Linked DNA regions of Homo sapiens: region 1 is linked to region 2. Evidence: fine-mapped expression QTL. A gene starts in region 2. The other region holds a variant in brackets. All regions are shown on one strand. Distances are between the middles of the regions.

Region 1 (10,766 bases), 730 kb before region 2:
AGAATTTAGAAACTAACCCAAATGCTTTAAAAACTCAACATCACATCATTTAGTAAATCTTTGATAAAGAAGAGTTAGCTTAAGGCCAGACCCAGTGGGTCATGCATGTAATCCTAGCACTTTGAGAGGCCAAAACAGGAAGGTTACTTGAGGCCAGGAGTTCGAGACCAGCCTTAGCAACATAGCGATACCCTGTTTCTACCAAAAATTTAAAAAGTAGCTGGACATGGTGTTATGCACCTGTAGTCCTAGCTGCTCAGAAGGCTGAGGTGGGAGGATTGCTGGAACCCAGCCTGGATGACAGAGAGAAACTCCGTCTCTAAATAGATGTAGATATAGTTGTAAATAGATATCTGCTTTAATAAAAACAGCTATGTCTCTGAGTTATCAGCATTAAGCATAATACAAACATACATATTTATATTACCTGGGTATGTTCTTACTAAGCTTATATAGGCTTCCTAGTCAAAAAGTTAACACTGTATCTGTTAGATATTTAAGATTTCACAGAATATAAATTTGAGTTTAATCGAGTCATTATTCTGATGATAACTTTTATTTCAACAATATTTATAATATGGTTAAAAACAGTTTCCAATTTTTAGGGGATAACTTACAACCTTATGTTATGCTAAATTAAGTAATAGATATTCATTAAATGGCTAGATTATTTCTAAGTAAAAATACTGAAATATTAATTACTATGCATAAATTTATATTTGTATTTATATTATTTTTCCTTCTGGTCTTTATATGGTACAGAGAGGCTAAATATTTTTTGGAGCTGGGTGCGGTGGCTCATGCTTGTAATCCCAGAACTTTGGGAGGCCAAGACAGGAAGATTCCTTGAGGCCAGGAGTTTGATACCAGCCTAGGAAACATAGAGAGACACCATTTCTACCAAAAAAAAGGAAAAATATCTGGGCCTAGTGACTTGGGCCTGTGTTCCTAGCCACTCAGGAGGCTGAGGCAGGAGGATAGGTTGAGCCCAAAAGGTCAAGGCTGCAGTGAGCTGTAACTGTATCCCTGTACTCCAGCCTGGGCAACAGAGTGAAACCCTGTCTCGAAAAAAAAAAAAAAAGACTATGATACTGGCATCAATGAAATAGAATTTAGAGTCTATAAATAAAACCGTATATATATTGTCAAGTGAACTTTTGACAAGGACACCAAAACCATTCTATGGGAAAAAAAAATCTTGTCAACAAATGGTGCTAAGACAACTGTATTTCCACTTGTAAAACAGTTAATTCAGACCCCCACCTCACATCCTATATAAACTCAAAATGAACTAAACACCTAAATCGAAGGGCTCAAACTACAGCCCTCTTAGAAGAAAACATAGATGTTGATCTTCATGAACTTGGATTAGGCAATGGTTTCTTAGATATGACACCACAAGCAACCAAAGGAAAGAATAGATAAATTGGACTTCATACAAAACAAAAACAAAAACAAAAACAAAAACGTTCGTGCATCTAAGGACACTATCAAGAAAGGGGAGGAAAGGGTTGCAGGTCTTCTGCCCTCTGGGCAAGCTCAGTGCATATGCTGATGACAGCAGCCAGTGGGGAATGATGACTGATATCCTTTCTACTGCTTTGGGCTTGGAGGAATGGCTCTTCCTTGCTCAGCCTGGGATGAGCTACACTTTTACCACAGGTCTCAGTGGGTGCAACATGAGTATCAAAGGAGCCACAGTCCCCCCACTTCCCACAGAGGGAGAGAGCCATGGAGTATTTCCTCCTCAGGACTGGGTGTAGTGAAGTTCCAGTTCTTAGGAGCTTATATGTATTATTTTCCATGTGCAAACCGTGGAGCCATACCACTATACCAAGTTCTTACCACCTACTCACTTCTGTTATATCACTATCCACTGGGTCCCTTATTTCTGTCAGCTGCTTTTGTTACCTTTCCCCAGGTGCCACCATGTAAGCTGTGATAGCACTGCAGATAGAACAGAAAATGTTTCTGTGAGCATAAATATGTCCAGTCTTGCTGGTCTATCACCATGTGGTATCTCCAGGAGAGACTGATACATACTGTGGACAATTATGGTAATAAATATGGATACAAAATTCCTCTGTGTTTTAGGATAAATTTTGTTACTGAACACTCAATTGCATATGCACCTTGTCCACTGAATCCAAATTAACTCCTCGAGCCTAGTTGTGCAATATCCCATTGTTCTAGCATTCTACATTACGATGCAATTTTTGTTATTAATAGCAGATTTGGGATGAGGTTATCACCTCACTTGGTGATAACCCAATATACATCTCAGAAAAATGTCCAATGAACCAGGTCTACACAACTTTCCCATTGACAAACCTGGCACTTAATTGTGTCCACTTGTTATTTGTAAAGCCAGGGAGCAAAAGTAAGCCACCAATATGAACATCCCTAGCTCTACAGAAATGGAACTTAGGGAAATTATAAATCCACTAGGGTCACCTTCCCTCTCAAGTCAAAATTTCAAGTGCACCGAATACCCCTACCACCTAGTTTCTAGGATTAAAAGAGATCACTTAAAATGTCTCAAGAAGAAGAACTCCAGACCCATTTCTTTGTGGGTTTGGAGTAGACTTGTTCTGGTTAGGATGTAGGTCATGACAGAGCATTAATCTCATTGTAACAACTATAAAAAAATCAGATGGTCAAAAATCTCATATATATTGAGACAGTGTCTCACTCTGTCACCTCAGCTGTAGTGAAGTGGTACAGTCTCAGCTCACTGCAACCTCCGTCTCCCTGGCTCAGAGGATCTTCCCACCTCAGCCTCCTGAGAAGTGGGACTACAGGTGCACGCCACCATGCTTGGCTAATTTTTGGGTTTTTGTAGTGACGGGTTTTTGCCATGCTGCCCAGGCTGGTCTCAAACTCCTGGACTCAAGTGATCCGGCCGCCTTGGCCTCCCAAAGTGCTGGCATTACAGGCATGAGCCACCGTGCCCTGCCTGAAGTCTAAAGTAACTAAATTTCAGAGAGAGACAAACACATATCAATGGCCATTGTCCTCTCCGGTAAGAATGGTCTTACAAGGCAGAGGATTGTGCCGGCCATAGGTGCAATAATTGCTGGGATAAAGACAGTTAATGACTGTGTGGCCTGGGTAGACACATTGGAATCTGTAGGAGCCCCAAATGCATACCTAGTTCTCCCCATCAATGGATTCTCCTAATGAGTTTTTTTTCTGAGTGCGTGGTGACAGAAGTAATATGGCAGGCTGGGGTGAGACAGAGAGAGAGAGAGAGAGAGAGAGAATCAATCTTGTATTTAGGCCCCAAAGTTCTGCTTGACTCTAGCAACTGGAGGAAGCAGCCTTTAACACAAATCCTATCTTCAGGGTGTTTGAAATCTAATACTAATACTAACTAAAGATGTATGCAAGCCATGGTACAGCTCGAATTCTGATTGGATTGAAGTTATATACCTCAGGGAAACTATAGTACCTAACCAAGGAAAGAGTGTACTCTAATCCCTATGGTTCTTTGAAGCACAATGCCTGACATGCAACTTTTAAAAACCCAGAACATGTGAAGTAACAGGGAAATGTGACCCATGATCGACAGTAATTGGCATGTCATCACTTCTCTCATGTTCCATTTTCCAAAGCAAGTCTCTAGGCCAGCCTAGATTCCAGAGGTAGGGAAACTGACTCTAACTTGTGATAGAAGGAGTTTTGAAATCATATTACAAATGGAGAACCAGGGACATTAAAAAATCAATCCCAACACTTTGGGAGGTCAAGGCAGGCCAATCACGAGGTCAGGAGATCGAGACCATCCTGACTAACACGGTGAAAACCTGTCTCTACTAAAAATGCAAAAAATTAGCTAGGCGTGGTGGCACGCACCTGTAGTCCCAGCTACTCGGGAGGCTGAGGCAGGAGAATCGCTTGAACCCAGGAGGCGGAGCTTGCAGTGAGCCGAAATCACGCCACTGCACTCCAGCCTGGGTGACAGAGCAAGACTCCATCTCTCTCTCTCTCTCTCCCTCCCTCTCTCCCTCTCTCTCTCTACTCTCTCTCTCTCTCTCTATATATATATAGAGAGAGATTTATATATATATTTTTATATACGTATATATATGTGTGTGTATATATATGTGTATATATATGTGTATATGTGTGTATATGTATATGTATATATATGTGTGTATATATATGTGTATATATATGTGTATATGTGTGTATATGTATATGTATATATATGTGTGTATATATATGTGTATATATATGTGTATATGTGTGTATATGTATATGTATATATGTGTGTATATATATATAAATCTACTACAAGAGTTCACAGGCAAGTCCCTCACCTACACTTTGTCACATGTGGTCTGCTTCTGCCCCTCGTACCCTTACTCTCTTACTCTTCCTGTTGTTCCTATTGGTGGCTGGGGAAGTGACGTGAGGGCAGTGGTGCCTGTGCAGCAGTGCTCAAGGATGCATCAAGGGTTCACTCTCAGGAAACTCCCAAAGCTGCTGGCCAGATGGGTAGCCAGTCCTAGACATGGCAGAGACTGGCTGAGTTTCCCAAATGCCTCTCTTGACCAAGGCCTGCAGAAACAGAAAGTCATATTTTCACATTGGCCAATCCTTGCATTCCTCAGGAAAATGGTTCCAATGTTCCCACTCACATCCTGCTTTTTCTCAGAGCTCAGACCTGGGACCACTGAGCTGGCTGCCACAACCAGCCTCCAATACCCACACCATTCTTGGCCACACCACCCTTTTTCATTCCTGTGCCCTTGTGGTTATTTACTGAAGGCTTACCGTGTGTCTAATAGAAGGTAAAGCTCCATGACTCCCCTGCAAGAAAAATGTTCTTATTGCTCATTTACAGATGAGAAACAGAGATGTTCAGTGGTTTGTGCAAAGCCACCCAGCTGCTAGGTGAAGCCAGCTTTGCCTGCTTCCAAAGGCCGTACACACTCTTTCCAATGCAATGGCTTCCTAGGTGGTGAAGGCTGGCTTTGTAGCCTAAGAACTAT[G/C]ATGAGGCTCTTGAGTCAGGAACAGCTAGCCTCTTCCTGTTGTGGAGATTCCTGCAATGAGGAGGTAGGCCTGTGAATGTAGTGATTTGGGGGACCTAGTCTGGAGTCCTAGTACCTGGCTGTCCACCAACTCCCAGCTTCCAGACGCTGCCCCTAAGCATAAGCTTCCTCTCTGCCAGTTTCCAATCCCCTTTCTCTCTCAACACTTCCACTAGGCCATTTTGATGGTTGGGCCTGTTGCCCCCGGAGGCACATCAAGCCCTTACCGCGCAGGTCCCGATCCCAGGGCAACACGGATGCCTCCCCCTGTTTAGCTATTTGCCTCCCACAGAGACTCTGAGATTTTTCTCCCTCATCTATCTGAGGCTTCTGGGAGAAGTTGGAAGCCCACGTGCCCTTAGTACAGCTGGCCTGAGATATCCCTGCCCTGTGCAGTCCCAGATGGGCTGCTGGGGCGCGATCTTCCACCTTCCCATTCCAGGGCCTCAAGGCGGCCTCCAGAGTGGGCTCCACAGCCTGAAGGTGGCATTTCCCCGTGGGTGGTTGCAGTGTCTGCAGACAGTGAGCAGGCACCAGCGGGACCCCAGAGTGGCTGAGGGCACACTGGGCAGGAGCCAGATCGCTGTCCCCCCAGGCAGTAGGTGCGACAGCGGGTCCTGGTCTGGAGCCTGAGGAGAGGGGAGGAGGGTCTCCTTGCTGCAGGAGTCTGGGTGGGGTGAGCTCCTGGCTGCAGGGCACCTCTGGCTACAGAAGGGGACGATGGGAGAGAGAGGGGCTCTGGCTGTGGGGGAAGGGGACTCCTGGCTGCTGATGTGGGAGGCGTGGGAGGGGGTTGCCAGGTTGCAGGGAGGATGGCATTAGGGAGAGGGCTCCTGGTCAAGTGCTGGGAAAAAGAGGAGGTGGGCACATCCAGCTGCAGGGTTGCACATGATGGTTGGAGGGGCTCCAGCTGTAAGTTTTGTGATCAGGGGCTGTTCACCAGGTGAAAGAGGCGCTTCCTGCTGTGGAGGTGGGGGGTGCAGTGAAGGACTCTGAGCTGCAGCAGTAGGGGTGGGGGAGCATGGGCTGTGACACTGGGCAGGGGAGATGCTTCAGGCCCTGCATTTGGGAGTGGCTGGTCTCTGGCTGTGCGGTGGGGGTGGGCTGACTGGCAGCAACGTCCCTCTCTCCCCTTTGCACTCACAGGCTGCGTCAGAGACTGCAACAGTCAGCACACATTCCTGTCTGATCAGGCTCCCTCCCTCAAGTCCTCTGCGATGGCTCTGGCGATGCTTCGGGACTGGTGCAGGAGGATGGGTGTGAACGCAGAGCGCTCTCTGCTCATCCTGGATATCCCTGACGACTGCGAGGAACATGAGTTCCAGGAGGCCGTGCGGGCTGCCCTGTCGCCCCTGGGCAGGTACCGAGTGCTCATCAAGGTCTTCAGAAAGGAGCTCGGGGCCAGGGCAGCCTTGGTGGAATTCGCTGAGGGTTTAAACCAAAGCTTGATTCCCCGCCAAATAGCAGGCAAAGGGGGACCCTGGAAAGTGATCTCCCTGCCCCAGGCCCTTGATGCTGAGTTTCAGGATATACCCAGTTTCCCTGCATAGCCCCAGGGGCAAGCAGTGGCCAGAGGTGCAGGTGAGGCAGGAGCTGCAGGTGAGGCAGGATCTGTAGGTGAGGCAGGAGGTGTGAATGAGGAAAGATCTGCAGGTGAGGCAGGAGCTGCAGGTGAGGAAGAAGAGGCAGGTGATGGAGGAGCTGCAGGTGCAGCAGGAGCCATAGGTGAAACAGGAGCTGTGGGTAAGGGTGAGGCAGAAGCCACAGGTGAGGGAGGATCTGCAAGTGAGGCAGAAGGTGCAGGTGAGGGAGGAGCTGGAGATGAGTTGAGAGTTGCAGAAGAGGCAAGAGAGTCAGATGAGGGAGCCGCAGGTGATACAGGACCTGCAGGTGAGGCAGGAGCTGTGGGTGAGGCAGGAGCTGTGGGTGAGGCAGGAGCTGCGGGTGAGGCAGGAGCTGTGGGTGAGGCAAGAGGGACAAATGTAACAAGAGCCTGGGTCCAGCCTCGGCGCTGCACCCTGCAGGCTGTGCTGGAAAACAGGGCCTACCAGGAACTGAGACCCTTTTCAGGGAGGGAGCAGCCAGGCTGCGAGGAAGAGTCCTTTGAGAGCTGGATGGAGCACGCCAAGGATATGCTGCAGCTGTGGTACCATGCGTCGGAAAGGGAGAGGAAGAGATGGCTGCTGGAGAGCTTGGGTGGCCCAGCCCTGGACGTTGTGAGCGGCCTCCTAGAGGAAGATCCCAACTTGGCGGCACTGGACTGCCAGGCGCTGCTGGACTGCTGGGCAGCGGTGCTGGGGCAGGCGTTTGGAAACCGGGACCCTCGAATGACTTCCAGGCTGAAGTTCCTGACCTGAACGCAGGGGCCCTTTGCCTTCCTGGTATGCCTGGAAGGCCTGCTGCAGATGGCCCTGGAGAAGGGGGCCGTCTGCCCGGCCCTGGCCAACCACCTGTGACTGCGGTAGGTGCAGCCTCAGGCCTGCCCTGGCGAAGCACTCCAGAATACCCTGAGGGGGATGCACTGGAGAGGAGGCCGCCCTACTTCCTGGGGCTGCTTCAGCTCATCCAGGAGATGGAGGCGTGGGCGGCCTCCCCAGTGAGGAGCCAGCATGTTGTGGCCTGGCCAGTGGCCACAGTGGAAAGTGAAGATCCAGTTGCCGCCCAGGCAGCTCCTGCCTGTGGAGATGCTGCTCAGGCCTCCTCAGCCCAGGAAGACGCCAGCCAGGCTGACCCTGGCGTGGAAGATGCTGCTGAGACTGCTCCTGCCACCAAAGAGGCCGCCAGGAGCACCCCTGCCATTAGGGAAGGTGAAAATGCCCCTGCAGGCCTCGAAGGAGCCAGAGGGTCTTGTCCAGGCAGGAGGCCAGGAGGCTGAGGAGCCCCCCGACCCAAGGGGGTCTTATGTTCATACTGGAGGAGTTGGAAAATGAGGATGGGGCCAGGAAGGTTGGTCAGCCCAAATCCTCCCCAGGCAAATAGGCTCAGAGGGCCCCAGGGCCTCCTCTCCTCTCAGGCCGCAGCATCCTGGAGGCAGTGGGGAGGCCAGGCCAGGGCTGGTCCCTCATCCCACATCAGGATCGGGGCCCCCCACCTCCCTCCAAAGGGCCCTGGCCACCACCATCAGCCCTTCCCGGTGACCCAGATGACCACGTTGATACCAAATGGGGTTGGGGGAGGCACCCCTGCTTTGCACCCAGTGCTGCACCCAGCCCCAGCCCCAAACCCTGCCGTCTCTGGGGGGCTGGCCAGGAGGGAGCCCTGAGTGGCCAGCTGCGACCTGGGTGGGGGCACCTGAAGATGTCTGTCCCCCACCCCTTGTCCTGGGTTGGGAGAGACAGGGGAAAGAGGTCCTCTCAAGGGTGCCAGCTGCCTGGGTCTCCCAAGAGGGTTGCCCCATTTGCCGTCCCCGGGGCAGGCTGCCCCCTGTTCTGGGAAGCCCACCCTCACCTGTTTAGGCCCCGTAGTGACCCACGCGCCCAGCAGACGCCCACCCACTGCTAGCTGTCGTTCCTGTGCAAAGTTGTGTGTTGTGCACCCACCCGGGCGGCCGCCACTAGGCCCGGGGCATGTGCTGTGAGCTTCCTGTGAGCCCAGGTTCTGCTCACTGCTGTCTGTCCTGCATCTTAAACACCACCTCTGCTTTCCTGGTGTAGATCTAGGCCAGTGGCTGCTTGTTCTCGTGGAGCTGTGTGTGTTCTTCTCTGAGCTGCTCCTCCCCGGAGGCCCCCAGCACAGACCCAGGAGATGGCGGGAAGGAGGAACCAGGGCGCGGCCAATGCTCACCCTGTGACCACGATGGTAACCATGACTGTGGGAGGAAGAGCCGGACCCGGGACGGAGTGGGGCTGCCCTGCCTGAGGCTCCCAGGAGAGCTTTATGCTTTGGCATTCCACCCCTGTTGTTACTTGTGACTGTTTCCTCGACCTGGTGGGCTGTTCCCTGCTGTGTTTACTGGTGTCCTGTGACTGTCTGTGATGACTATAGGGCAGGGCCCTGCCCCAGCAGATGGGCTTGGGAGGGGGCTCCCTGAAGCCGGTGGACACTGCCAGAGTCCACGTCCTGGCAAGAGGCGGGCCCTGGGGCCCTCGGGAAGGAGGGAGGTAGCAGTGGGGTCGGCAGCAGGACGGGGGTAGACGAGGCGCCTTGCCAGGAACCCCAGGAGGAGGGATCCTAGGACCTGTGTCCTGTAGTGGCTGTTTGCAGTTTCTCTCTGTGTTGTGGTTCCCTTCTTTTCAGTGATTTCGGTACACGTTTCTCTTCAATAAATTTCATTCCATTTTCCAGCCGGTCTCGCCTCTGCTGTGGGAAACTAGTGGGAAAGGTCTCTTTGGGATAAAATGGAAGTTGGGGGACAACAGTGGCCTGGAATTCTGACCCTATTGTGCTCACTGGGATACGGTCAGGGCATAGTAGGCCAGCGATTGTAGAGAATGACCTAACTGCGATGGTGGTTCCAACCCAGAGTCAGTGGCTTATGAGGATGAGGAAAGAAACCAAGCTGAACATGCTGGATGGTGCCAGTTGACGGAACACTGCCGTGCGAGGGCAATGTGTGGCTTGCTCCCCAGGGCATGCATGGAGGCTCCCAGAACGAAGTGCATAAGACGTGGAAGGGCAGGCAGGGGACAGCAGGCTGGGGCGGAGGCCTGGGTTGAAGCTCTAGCATAGACATCTTTTTAACTGTTCCTCAGTTCCTCATGTTTATCCTGTGTGTGGAGCTTTCACCATCTCTTTGGAAAGACAGAAGAGATGGATAAGGAAAAGGAGTAGAACAGAGCGGCACCCCTTGCCTTCCCCAGAGTCTGGGTAGCGGGCGCAGGACGTGTCGCCTGTCCAAATGCGCAACTTTCACCAGTGTACGCTACGCGTGCGCGCCTGTGCACCTTGACGAGCACGCAGCCGTCATGAGTGCGCCTGGGCACGCCGCCATTTCCTGCAGCCGCGACAGCACGGTCGTATATTTCCGGTTGTCATTTTATTCTTTTTGAGAAATGGTCTCGCTCTGTTGCCCAGGGTGGAGTGTAGTGGCGCTGTCATAGCTCACTGCAACCCCGACCTCCTGGGCTCAAGCGATTCTCCCGCCTCAGCCTCCCGACTAGCTGGGACCACAGGCGTGCAACCACCATACCCGGAACCACAGTCACAGTCGGTCGCAGTGCCCGCTGGGAAAATGCGACCGTCCACAAAGCGAAACGGCCATCGGGGCGAGTTCGGCCTCGGCGGGGATTCTCCTGAGGTCACGCCCGCTCTGGCCGCCAGAGGACGCCCGAGGATCACGAATGGGCCCGAGGAGCTGGCTGCCCCTTCCCACGCTCAAGGTCTGCAGCCGTGGCCAGAGTGGCCTTGGGGTGACCGCGCGTGGACCGTCGCCGGCGGGAGGGAGCGCGGTCCCGCGGGGGCCGAACGGGGCTCCTGTGGCCTGAGCTTGTTTCGCAGGGAGCCCTGGCGGCCATGGCTCTGGGACACCAGACAACGGTCGTCAGGGCTGTCCAGGGTAAGGGGGTGTGGACGTGCAGACAGGGAGGGCAGCTGGACCCTCCAACCATGCTGGGCCCTTGGGCTGACCGGGGCTCGTCTGTGGGGCTCAGTGAGGAGGGACTTTGTTCCCTAGGAGTTTGATGAGGGAGCGCCATGGGGGTGGCGTCATCCTGACATCCTGCAGGGCAGTGGAGCCTTACTTTCCCTAGCCCCAGAGATCATGAAGTCTCTCTTTGTTTAAAGGTAGAAACC
Region 2 (10,377 bases):
AAAATAACCCAGTTACACCTACTATGTACTCCTAAAAATTAAAAATTGAAAATTGAAAAAATAAATAACCCAATTTAAATGGGCAAGGACCTGAACAGGCATTTCTCAAAAGAAGACATACAAACGGCCAATAGGTCTATTAAAAAAAAATGCTCAACATCAGCCGGGTGCAGTGCTCACGCCTGTAATCCTAGCACTTTGGGAAGCCGAGGTGAGTGGATCACCTGAGGTCAAGAGTTCAGGACCTGCCTGGCCAACATGGTGAAACCCTGTCTCTACTAAAAATACAAAACTTAGCCAGGTGTGGTGGCATACGCCTGTAATCCCAGCTACTCCAGAGGCTGAGGCAGGAGAATCACTTGAATCCGGGGGGCAGAGGTTGCAGTAAGCCAAGATCGCGCCACTTCACTCCAGCCTGGGCGAAAGAACAAAACTCCATCTTAAAAAAAGAAAAAAATGCTCGACATCACCAATCATCAGGGAAATGCAACTCAAAACCACAATGAGACACCACCTCACTCAAATTAGAATGATCGTTTTCAAAAAGACAAAAGAAAACAAACTTTGGCGAGGGTGTGGAGAAAAGGGAACATTTTGGAACAGTATGGAAAATGGTATGCATGGTGGTTCCTCAAAATATTTAAAGTGAGAATGACCATACAATCCAGCAATCCCATTTCTGGGTATGTATCTAAAGGAAATGAAATCGGTATGTCGAGGCAATATCCACACTCGCATGTCCATTGAAGCACTACTCACAATCGCCAAGATATGGAATCAAACGAAATGCCCACCAACAGATGAATGGATAAAGAAAATGTGGTACAGATACACAATGGATCACTACTCAGCCTTTAAAAAGAAGGCAATCCTGCCATTTGCAACATGGAGGAACCTGGAGGACATTACATTAAGTGAAGTAAGCCGGGCACAGAAAGGCAAATACTGCATGACGCTGCTCACGTGGAAAGTAAAAATGTCAGCCTCATGGAAACAGAGCAGAACAGTGGCCGCCAGGACTGGGGTAGGGGAAATGGGAAAATGCTGGTCAAAGGGTACCAAGTTTCAGTTATGCAGGATGGAGACGTTCCAGAGATCTGATGTACAGCATGGTGATTCTAGTTAACACATTTAAAAAAATAAAACCAAAAAATTTGTTGCAAAAGTAAATAATTTATTGTTTAAGGCTAATTCATATTTGGGACAAGTATAAAGAAAACCAAGGAAAGGCTAGGACTAACTGCGAAGGGAAAAAGAAGGGTCCATGATGGCTGTCAGTGGGGATGATTCATCTAAGCAGCATATGCTCTTCCGTGTGTATTAGATTGAACAAGATGAAACTGCAATTTTTGTAGGTTAACAATAAATGAACATTAAGCAACGTCATCTGGTTTTGACCCAAGACATTTATTAATAATAAATCAATGATAAAATAAAACCAAAACACTTTATGCTAATAAACTTGAAAACTTAAACAAAATGGGCATGTTCCAGCCAGGCGCGGTGGCTCACGCTTGTAATCCCAGCACTTTGGGAGACCGACGCAGGTGGATCACCTGAGGTCAGGAGTTCAAGACCAGCCTGGCCAACACAGTGAAACTCCGTCTCTGCTAAAAATACAAAAATCAGCTGGGCGTGGTAGCGGGCACCTGTAATCCCAGCTACTCGAGAGGCTGAGGCAGGAGGATTGCTTGAACCCAGGAGGCAAAGGTTGCAGTGAGCCAAGATCATGCCACTGCACTCCAGCCCGGGCGACAGAGCTAGATTCTGTCTAAAAAAAAAAAAAAAAAAGCATGTTCCTAGAAAAATATTGTTTATCAAAAATTGACTCAAAATAGAATGATTCATCCTAAATTCAGATAGAATCTCAAGGGGCTCCAAATAACCAAAACAATTCTGAAAAAGGAGAACAAAGTTCGAGGACTCACACTTCCTGATTTACAAAATAAAACATATTACAGTGTGGTCCTGGCATAAAGACAGAGACAGAATATAATCCAGAGCCCAGAAAGAAACTCTCAAGTATATGGTCAGATGATTTTTGACAAGGGTATCAAGGCTACAAATTGGGAAAAGGGCAGTCTTTTCAACAAATGGTATAGGGGAAACTTGATATCCACATGCAAAAGAATAAAGTTGGAGGCTGGGCATGGTGGCTCACACCTGTAATCCCAGTGCTTTGGGAAGCCAAGGTAGGAGGATTGATTGAGTCTGGGAATGGGAGACCAGCCTGGGCAAAGTAACAAGATCCCATCTCTACCAAAAACATTAAAAATTTGAGGCTGAAGCACAAAAATTGCTTGAACCCGGGAGGCAGAGGTTGCAGTGAGCTGAGATCACGCCACTGTACTCCAGCCTGGGTGACAAAGTGAGATCTGTCTCAAAAAAAAAAATTAAATTAAAAATTAGCTGGGCATGGTGGTGAATGCCTATAGTCCCAGCTACCCAGGAGGCTGAGGCAGGAGAATTGCTTGAGACCAGGAGTTTGAGGTTACAATGATTATGCCACTGCACCCCAGCCTGGGCAACAGAGCAAGACCTGTCTCAAAAAAAAAAAAAAAAAAGATGGCAAATTTTGTGTTATGTATTTTTTCCCACAATAAAAAAATTACTCAAGAAGAAACAGAAAACCTAAATGGTCCCATAATTATTACAGAAGTTGGATTCATTGTTTAAAATCTATAGGGGGACAGGCAGGAAGCTACAAAAACAAGGAAGGCCAGGCCAGATGCGGTGGCTCATGCCTGTAATCCCAGCACTTTGTGAGGCCGAGGCAGGCAGATCACCTGAGGTCAGGAGTTCAAGACCAGACTGGCCAACATGGCGAAACACCGTCTCTACTAAAAATACAAAACTTAGCTGGACGTGGTGGTGCATGCCTGCAGTCCCAGCTACTCGGGAGGCTGAGGCAGGAGAATCGCTTGCACCCAGGAGGCAGAGGTTGCAGTAAGCCAAGACTGTACCACTGCACTCCAGCCTGGGCAACAGAGTGAGACTCTGTCTCAAAACAACAACAAAACAAAACAAAACAAAACAAAAAAAACAAAGAAGAGAAAAGAAAAGAAACAAAACAAAAAACAGAAAATAAAAAACAAGGAAGGCCTAGATGGTTTTACAGATGATCTCCAGCAAACATGGAAGTAACTGATCATCTCCATCTTAGACTAACTGTTCCAGTGAACAGCTGAAAAAGGAAATACTGCCTCAACTCACTTTACGATGTCTTGATACCAAAACCAGACGAGGATAATAATACGAGGCTAAAAAAAAAAAAAAAAACCACCCAATCCAGAATTGTATATGAAAAAAATACATCACGCAAAGTTGAGTTTAGTCCAGAAAATACAAGAGTGGTTTAACATTTAAAAATGAATTAATGTAATTTGCCACATTAACAGATTAGAGGAGGAAAACCCTGTGATCATATTAATGCATTCAGAAAAAGCATTTTATAAAAATTCAACATATAGCACACTAGGAATGGGAGGGAGCTTTCTAAATCTGATAAACATATCTACCGAATGCTCCCTGCAAACATCATACTTAATAATGGAACACTGAGAATGCCTCCTATGCTTTTTTTTTTTTTTTTTTTTTTTTTTTGAGACAGAGTTTCGCTTTTGTTGCCCAGGCTGGAGTGCAATGGCTCGATCTTGGCTCACCGCAACCTCGGCCTCCTGGGTTCAAGCGAGTCTCCTGCCTCAGCCTCCCAAGTAGCTGGGATTACAAGCATGGGCCACCATGCTCGGCTAATTTTTTTGTATTTTTAGTAGAGACAGAGTTTCTCCATGTTGGTCAGGCTGGTCTCGAACTCCTGACCTCAGGTGATCCACCCACCTCGGCCTCCCAAAGTGCTGGGATTACAGGCGTGAGCCACCATGCCCAGCGCCTCCTATGCTTTCATTCAAAGGAAGTAAAAGCAAGAGAAAGCAAGTCCAGGGAAGTAAAGCAAGGAAACGAAATCAGCCGGGCACAGTGGCTCACGCCTGTAATCCTAGCACTTTGGGAGGCCAAGGCAGGTGGATCAGGAGTTCCAGATCAGCCTGGCCAACATGGTGAAACCCTGTGTCTGGTAAAGATACAAAAATTAGTCAGGCGTGGTGGTGGGTGCCTGTAGTCCCAGCTTCTTGGGAGGCTGAGGCAGGAGAACTGCTTGAACCAGGGAGGCGGAGGTTGCAGTGAGCCAAGATTGTGCCACTATACTCCAGCCTGGGTGACAGAGCCAGACTCTGCCTCAAAAAAAGAAATCAAAGCTAAAAAGACTGGAATAGAAGAAACAAAATGGTCATTACTTGCAGATGATAGGATTGTGTACGCAGAAAATCAAAAAGAATCCACAAAGAGAACCCAAACATAATTATTAGACTTAATATGAGAGTTTACAAGGTTACTTGATACATAGAAATCCATTGTTTTTCTATGTACCAGCAACACACAGTCTGAATGGGAATTCAAAAGAAGGTAGCCAGGCGCAGTGGCTCACAGGCTCACGGGCCAGCACTTTGGGAAGCCAAGGCGGGAGGGCCGCTTGAGTCCAGGAGTTTGAGACCAGCCTGGGCAACATAGCGAGACCCTGTCTCTACAAAAAAATTACAAAATTAGCCAGGCACTGTGGCGCCTGCCTGTAGTCCCAGGTGTTTGGGAGGCTAAGGTGGGAGGATCACTTGAGCCCAGGAGGCTTCAGTGAGCCATGATTGCGCCAATGCACCCCAGCCTGCACGACAGAGCGAGACCCCGTCTCAAAAAAAGAAATCAGATTGATAAATGCTATGATATTAAAATTAAGACTTTCTGTTTATCACATGATACATCAGCAAACTGAGAAGACAAGTAACAGGTAGGCCGAAGACATACACCCCAGGGATTGGTGTGGAAAATACAGAACACCTGCAAAGTGTAAGCCAAGACATGCACGGGCATTTGACAGAAGAAATGAAAAGTGCTGCAATATGGCCGGTGGTCAAGGAATGCCGATTCAAAACCCAGCAGGGCACCATTTCACACCCACTGTATGCGCAGAAACTCTCAAGTCTGCTCTCTGGTGTACGTGAAGACGTGGTGCAGCAGTGGCAGTGGGGGTGTCCGCTGGGATGCCAGCATGGAGAGCTACGTCTTCAGCCCAGCAAACGTGAAGCCCACGTCCCACTGACCCAACGAGTCCCCTTCCAGCATTGAGAAGCCTGGCACACAGCAAGGAGACGACACCAGATCAGTTGACGCTGCCTTCCCATCCCTTGGTGAGGGGACCCGGCCATTGCAGGATAAATCCAGCACGACTCCCCTGACATAAGATGTTCCGGTTCCCCAAACCAGCCTAGATCCTTTCTGGTTACACCAGCTTCAGACCAGGGGCTGCCATAGCCACGCCTCTTATCTGCTCAGAAAGCGTAGAAGGTGCATATGCAGGCCATATACACACATATTTATGAAAATGGTGCTGCCTGTGGATGGATTTATTTTCTTTTTTCTTTCTTTCTTTTCTTTTTTTTTTAAAGACAGAGTCTTGCACTGTCACCCAGGCTAGAGTGCAATGGCACCATCACGGCTCACTGCAGGCACCAACTCCCAGGCTCAGGCGATCCTCCCACTTCAGCCTCCCAAGTAGCTGGGACTACAGGCTCGCACCACCATGCCTGGCTAATTTTTAAATTTTTTTATAGAGATGGGGGTCTCACTATGTTGCCCATGCTGGTCTAGAACTCCTGGGCCCAAGTGATCCTGCTGCCTTAGGCTCCCAAAGTGCTGGGATTACAGGCGGGAGCCACGACGCCCAGCCTGATTTATTTTCTTCTGTGGAAAGGAAGGAGAAACCCATTCCCCATGCCAGATTGCAGGCGTCTGTCTCATCCGGGGCCAGCAAGGACATGTGTGTGTGTGTTGGGGTAGGCATGGGGGGAAGGACAGGGAGAGGGAGAGAGGCCAGCTGGCTCCCCCAAGCCTCCCCTCCTGGAGCTTCTAAATCCCTCCCTGGCTCCTTCAAGGCTGCCTGGCCTTCCTGTTGGGGAGAGACCCCTCGCCGGCTGCTCACTCGCTTTTTGGTGGTCCTTCCCACGGGCCTGCCTGGTCTGCCTCCACATCCTCAGCGGCTGCAGGTGAGAAGCTGTGGATCTGGGGCCCAGTGGTCCAGAGCGTGGCCCGTGCCAGAATGCCCAGGTTCAAATCCCATCTCTGTGGAATGCACTCTGAAGAAACGACGTCAGGTCATGGCCCTGGGCAAGTTACCCACCTCTGTGCCCCATTTCTCTCCATGCAGGTTGGAAAGAATGACACAGCTGCTCAGGGAAGCACCCATACCCCGAGTCTGCTGGGCCTTTGAGCTCCAGGGCCAACACCTGGCCCTATACCCTGGCCGCCCCCAGGGCTCCAGCCACCTGAGCCAAGCTTCTCACCCCCAGGCCTCCCCAGCCCCATCACCATTTCCTCCTCCCTCATGGGCCCCTCAGTCTTACCGTCCTCCCACTTCCGCCAGCCCCTCTGTGGATGGCCCTGCCACAGGGGGAACAGTGCCCCAGCAGAAAAGCCCCAGGGTCGCCTGGATTCTCCTGCCTTCGCCTCCTGCCCTGGGTCCAACGCACAGTCTTCAGAATGCTGCCTCCCCAGAGCGCCTCTAGAACGCGCCCGCCTCTCTCCATGCCCATGACCACCACTGGACCAGGCCTCCCCACATTCTCTGCCCCAGTGCCACCAGCTTGCAGTTGCCCATGGCGAGACAAGTTCAAGTTCTCAAGCCTGGCCACAAAGACCCCACCTGATTTGCTGACCTCCGCCACACCCTGGGAGACGGCCCTTGACCAACCTTGTGTTCCAGTCGGTGGGAAACACTGGTTTTTCCTCAACGCCACGTGGGCATGTCACGTCCAGGCCTGGCCTGGGGTAGGCCTCAGCTCCATCTCCTGCCCAACGCCTGCCAAGGTTCATGGTTCAAGGTCATGTAGCCTGACGGTTAAGTGAAGGGGCCCTGTGATTGACTCAGCCTTGCCACATACTAGCTGTGTGACTTTATTCAAGTTTCCTAACCTCCTGTGCCTCAGTTTCCCAACCTGTGTTTGTTTCTGGATGGTGCCAGTGCCAAGCCCAAGCCTGGCATCCAGTAGGTGCTTCGTGCCAGGTTATGGAATGCCCACCCAATAGGAGGGCGCTGCCGTCTCTCACCTGCCAGGTGCCCACGGTCAGTACTCCATCATGCCCGCTGCGGCCAGCAGAGGGCAGCAACATCCTGCCCTGTGCCATTGGGCAAAGGGGCGGGCGGAGAGAGGCTGGGCTGCCTGGCCGGGCTTGTTGGGATGAGTCGGACTGGGCACGATTGCATTGTGGGGAGGGAGGCTGGGGCTCTGTGAGACGTGCTCCTGGCACCGCCAGCTGCTACTTGGCCCTCGCCGGTGGCCCACCAGGTAGGCAAGAGCTGGGGCAGGCTTGGGCTTGGGCTTGGGGTGCAGGGGCTACCAGCCTCAGGGCAAGGCATCAGGGTCTCAGGGCCAACTGGCTGGGGTCAGGCAAGAGCGCTCGGGTGTCGGCCCAGCCTGACGACGGCACTAGGTGTCTGGGAGCACGGTGTCCCCCAAGTGGTAGCCCTGGGGTTAGGAGGTGGGGAACCATGTTTCTTCCCCGAAATGGGAAAGCCAACGCCAGCCTCGGGCAGGGTACAGGGTAGAGAGGCTGCCCGCCTGGCTCCCCACCCCCACAGCCACCCAACTGGCCCAGCCAGGTGACAGCAGCCCACTGCCACCTTGCCCTGGAGCCTACTGCTGCCGTGCTGTGGGGGAGGCAGAGACCCCATCCCCAGTGCACCTGCTCCTGTGCCACTGGCCAGGGTGGCCTGTGAGGGTGACAGGGGGTCTAGCTGCTAGGTGCCCCTCCCTTCCCCATCCCCTGCATGGATGGCATCTAGGCCAGCAGGACGGTGCTTCAGAGGGTGGGGTGGACAGCCCCGGCCTGTGGACCCTCTGCCTCAGCCCATCTCAAGCAGCCTCCTCCCGTGGTCCTGCTCGCTGCCACCATGCTGTACCTGGCACCACTTCACCAGTCCCCAGGGGCAGGGCTGGGCTGGGGGTGTGGAGGAAGATCTTTTGGACAAAGGCAGGCATTGAGGGCCAGGACTGGCACTTCACCCAGGCCCCAAGGCTACCAGCCGGCATTTGCAGGGGCTCCAAGGTCCACCCCGTGCCCTTCACAGGGACCCGGGGAGCCAGGGAGGGGCATGCTTAGTGACACAGGGGTTGCAGGGCCAGAGGGGGAGGGCTGGCTGGAGGAAACCCCGGCCCTTTGTCCCCGGATCCCGGGGGTGGCTCCCTGAGGGTGGGAAGTGGCAAGGAGCCCCCTGTCCAGAACAGCCCAGTGGGGGTGACAGCACTAGCGAGTGGGGCCCTGGCCTGGCCTCTGGACAGAGGGAACATTGTTGTGGTGGAGGCAGGGCTGCCTTGGCCTGGCCACTATTGACAAAGCTGCCAGCTGTGAGGGAGCCCGGTCGCTAGGCCCTGGGCGCCACCCCCACCGCCGCCCCTCCTTCCCCAGGCCAGCTCGAATGGGGCTGAGCCTCGACTGTCTCCCTCCCACTCAGGACAATGCCCCCCCGCAGCCATCTCATGCCCATCGCCACTGCCCTGGGGCAGCTGAACTGAGCGTATGTGCCACGCCGCCCAGGAGACCCCTCTGCTGCACCACTTCATGGTAAGTGCCCAGGCCCGGTGTCCCCAGAAATGTTCCTGGGAGGGGCAGGGTAGGGCAGGATGGCTGTGGCCAGGCCCAGGACATACAGGCTGCAGCCTCCCTCATGGCAGACACTGCCCCAGATAGCCCGGGGTCCGCAGGAAGTGTCCGTGCTCTTCCTGCCTGTGTTCCTGAGATAAGCGGCTCCTGGGCCTTCCTCCAGGCGCTGCTCTGCCCTGAGTCGCAGCGGCCCCACTCCTGGTCGGCATGTGACCACACACCCAGGGCAGCATCTCTCTGTGGAGGGCAGGAGGGGCCAGAGAAGGGGCTGCTCCCACCTCTCACCCTCGGGGGCTCACCCCGGGGTCCCACCAGGCACACCCAGGAACCATCTCCAGTCTGGCACCCCTCCCTGCCCCTTCCCTGACCCCTCCCCCAGCCAGCTCTCCTGGTCTGCTCTTCTCCTGGGACACTCCTACACTGAGGCCCCCTGTGCCAGGCCCTGAGAGACCCAAACTGCTGGGGCCCATGGGGCAGGAGCAGGCCTCCCCGCACCCCTGAAGCCTGTGTTGTCTCTTGACACCCCTGGCTTCTCCCAGCACCCCCGCTGCCTTGCCCCAGTGCTTCCTCGCCCTGGAGCTGGGCGCCAGCATGGAGCTCACCCCTGCCTCTTCGCTGACTTGCTCCTTGCTCAGCCCGCGGCTGCCTGGCTCTTTCCCCCAGCTGCGGAGGGTTCCTCCTTGCAGCCGGCCCTGGCTGCCCAAGGCAGGTTTTCTCTCCCTGTCTGGTCCCTTGGGGCACACGGTGGCCTCACTCCTCTCACCTGACTTAGATCTCTCTTGTCTGGGTGGTGGGCGCAGGGGCGCGCTGTGACACAGCTTCCGCCAGCCTTCCAGCTCCCGCGGCCTCCCTCCCTCCCCTGCCCTCTCTCCATCCCTGCCCCCTCTGTGACTCACAGTCCCTCTGTTAGCGCTCTTGCGGCTTTCCAGGACCTGCCCCCCTTCAACAATCTACATGCATATAAAGTAGGAGATGAAAGAATTCTGTCCTTGTGTGCTTGTGCGTGCGTGCATGCACCCCTCCCTGCCTCTTGCTCCAGCTCTTGGACACTGTCTTTGTCCCTCCTTATGTCCCCCTCTCTCTGTGCCCCCTCTGTCTCCTTGTCTCCGCTCACTCTCTCTCATTCTCCATCTCTCTGCCTCCCTCCCTCCCTGGCCCTGAGCACCCTGGCCTCTGTCCACCCCACCTTCCACCTTCCTCTGGTCCTCTATCTGCCTTGCGCTCCCACTGCCCTGACCTGTGCCCTCTCACAGGCCCCCGTGATGGCTCGCTGGCCTCCCTTCGGCCTCTGCCTCCTCCTGCTGCTGCTGTCCCCACCGCCACTGCCCTTGACAGGGGCCCATCGCTTCTCCGCACCTAATACCACTCTCAACCACTTGGCACTGGCACCTGGCCGAGGCACACTCTATGTCGGCGCAGTGAACCGCCTCTTCCAGCTCAGCCCCGAGCTGCAGCTCGAGGCCGTGGCTGTCACTGGCCCTGTAATCGACAGCCCTGACTGCGTGCCCTTCCGTGACCCAGCCGAGTGCCCACAGGCCCAGCTCACTGACAATGCCAACCAGCTGCTGCTGGTGAGCAGCCGCGCCCAGGAGCTGGTGGCCTGCGGGCAGGTGCGGCAGGGCGTGTGTGAGACACGGCGCCTTGGGGATGTGGCCGAGGTGCTGTACCAGG

Which allele goes with the higher level. Positions count from the first base shown, and alleles are read on the strand shown. Sizes are in standard deviations (SD) of each study's normalised expression.
With allele G in place of C in region 1, the expression in cerebellum of the gene that starts at base 7,336 in region 2 is higher (large effect, 0.94 SD a copy in GTEx).

The links.
Region 1: its variant is fine-mapped to the expression of PLXNB3 in cerebellum (GTEx, PIP 0.93).

What each region holds. Positions count from the first base shown.
Region 1 is chrX:153,022,532-153,033,297 of GRCh38, forward strand. It overlaps the pseudogene LOC112268308. Among named protein-coding and RNA genes, the nearest start is that of PNMA3, 29 kb to the right of the region's middle. The variant G/C (reference allele first, on the strand shown) is at 4,998.
Region 2 is chrX:153,756,914-153,767,290 of GRCh38, forward strand. It overlaps PLXNB3 (plexin B3), which reads left to right and starts at 7,336. Exons shown (of 36, transcript NM_005393.3): 1 at 7,336-7,391; 2 at 8,558-8,667; 3 at 9,960-10,377. The coding sequence starts at 8,623. It overlaps PLXNB3-AS1 (PLXNB3 antisense RNA 1), which reads right to left and starts at 9,558. Exons shown (of 3, transcript NR_199696.1): 1 at 9,470-9,558; 2 at 6,797-6,936.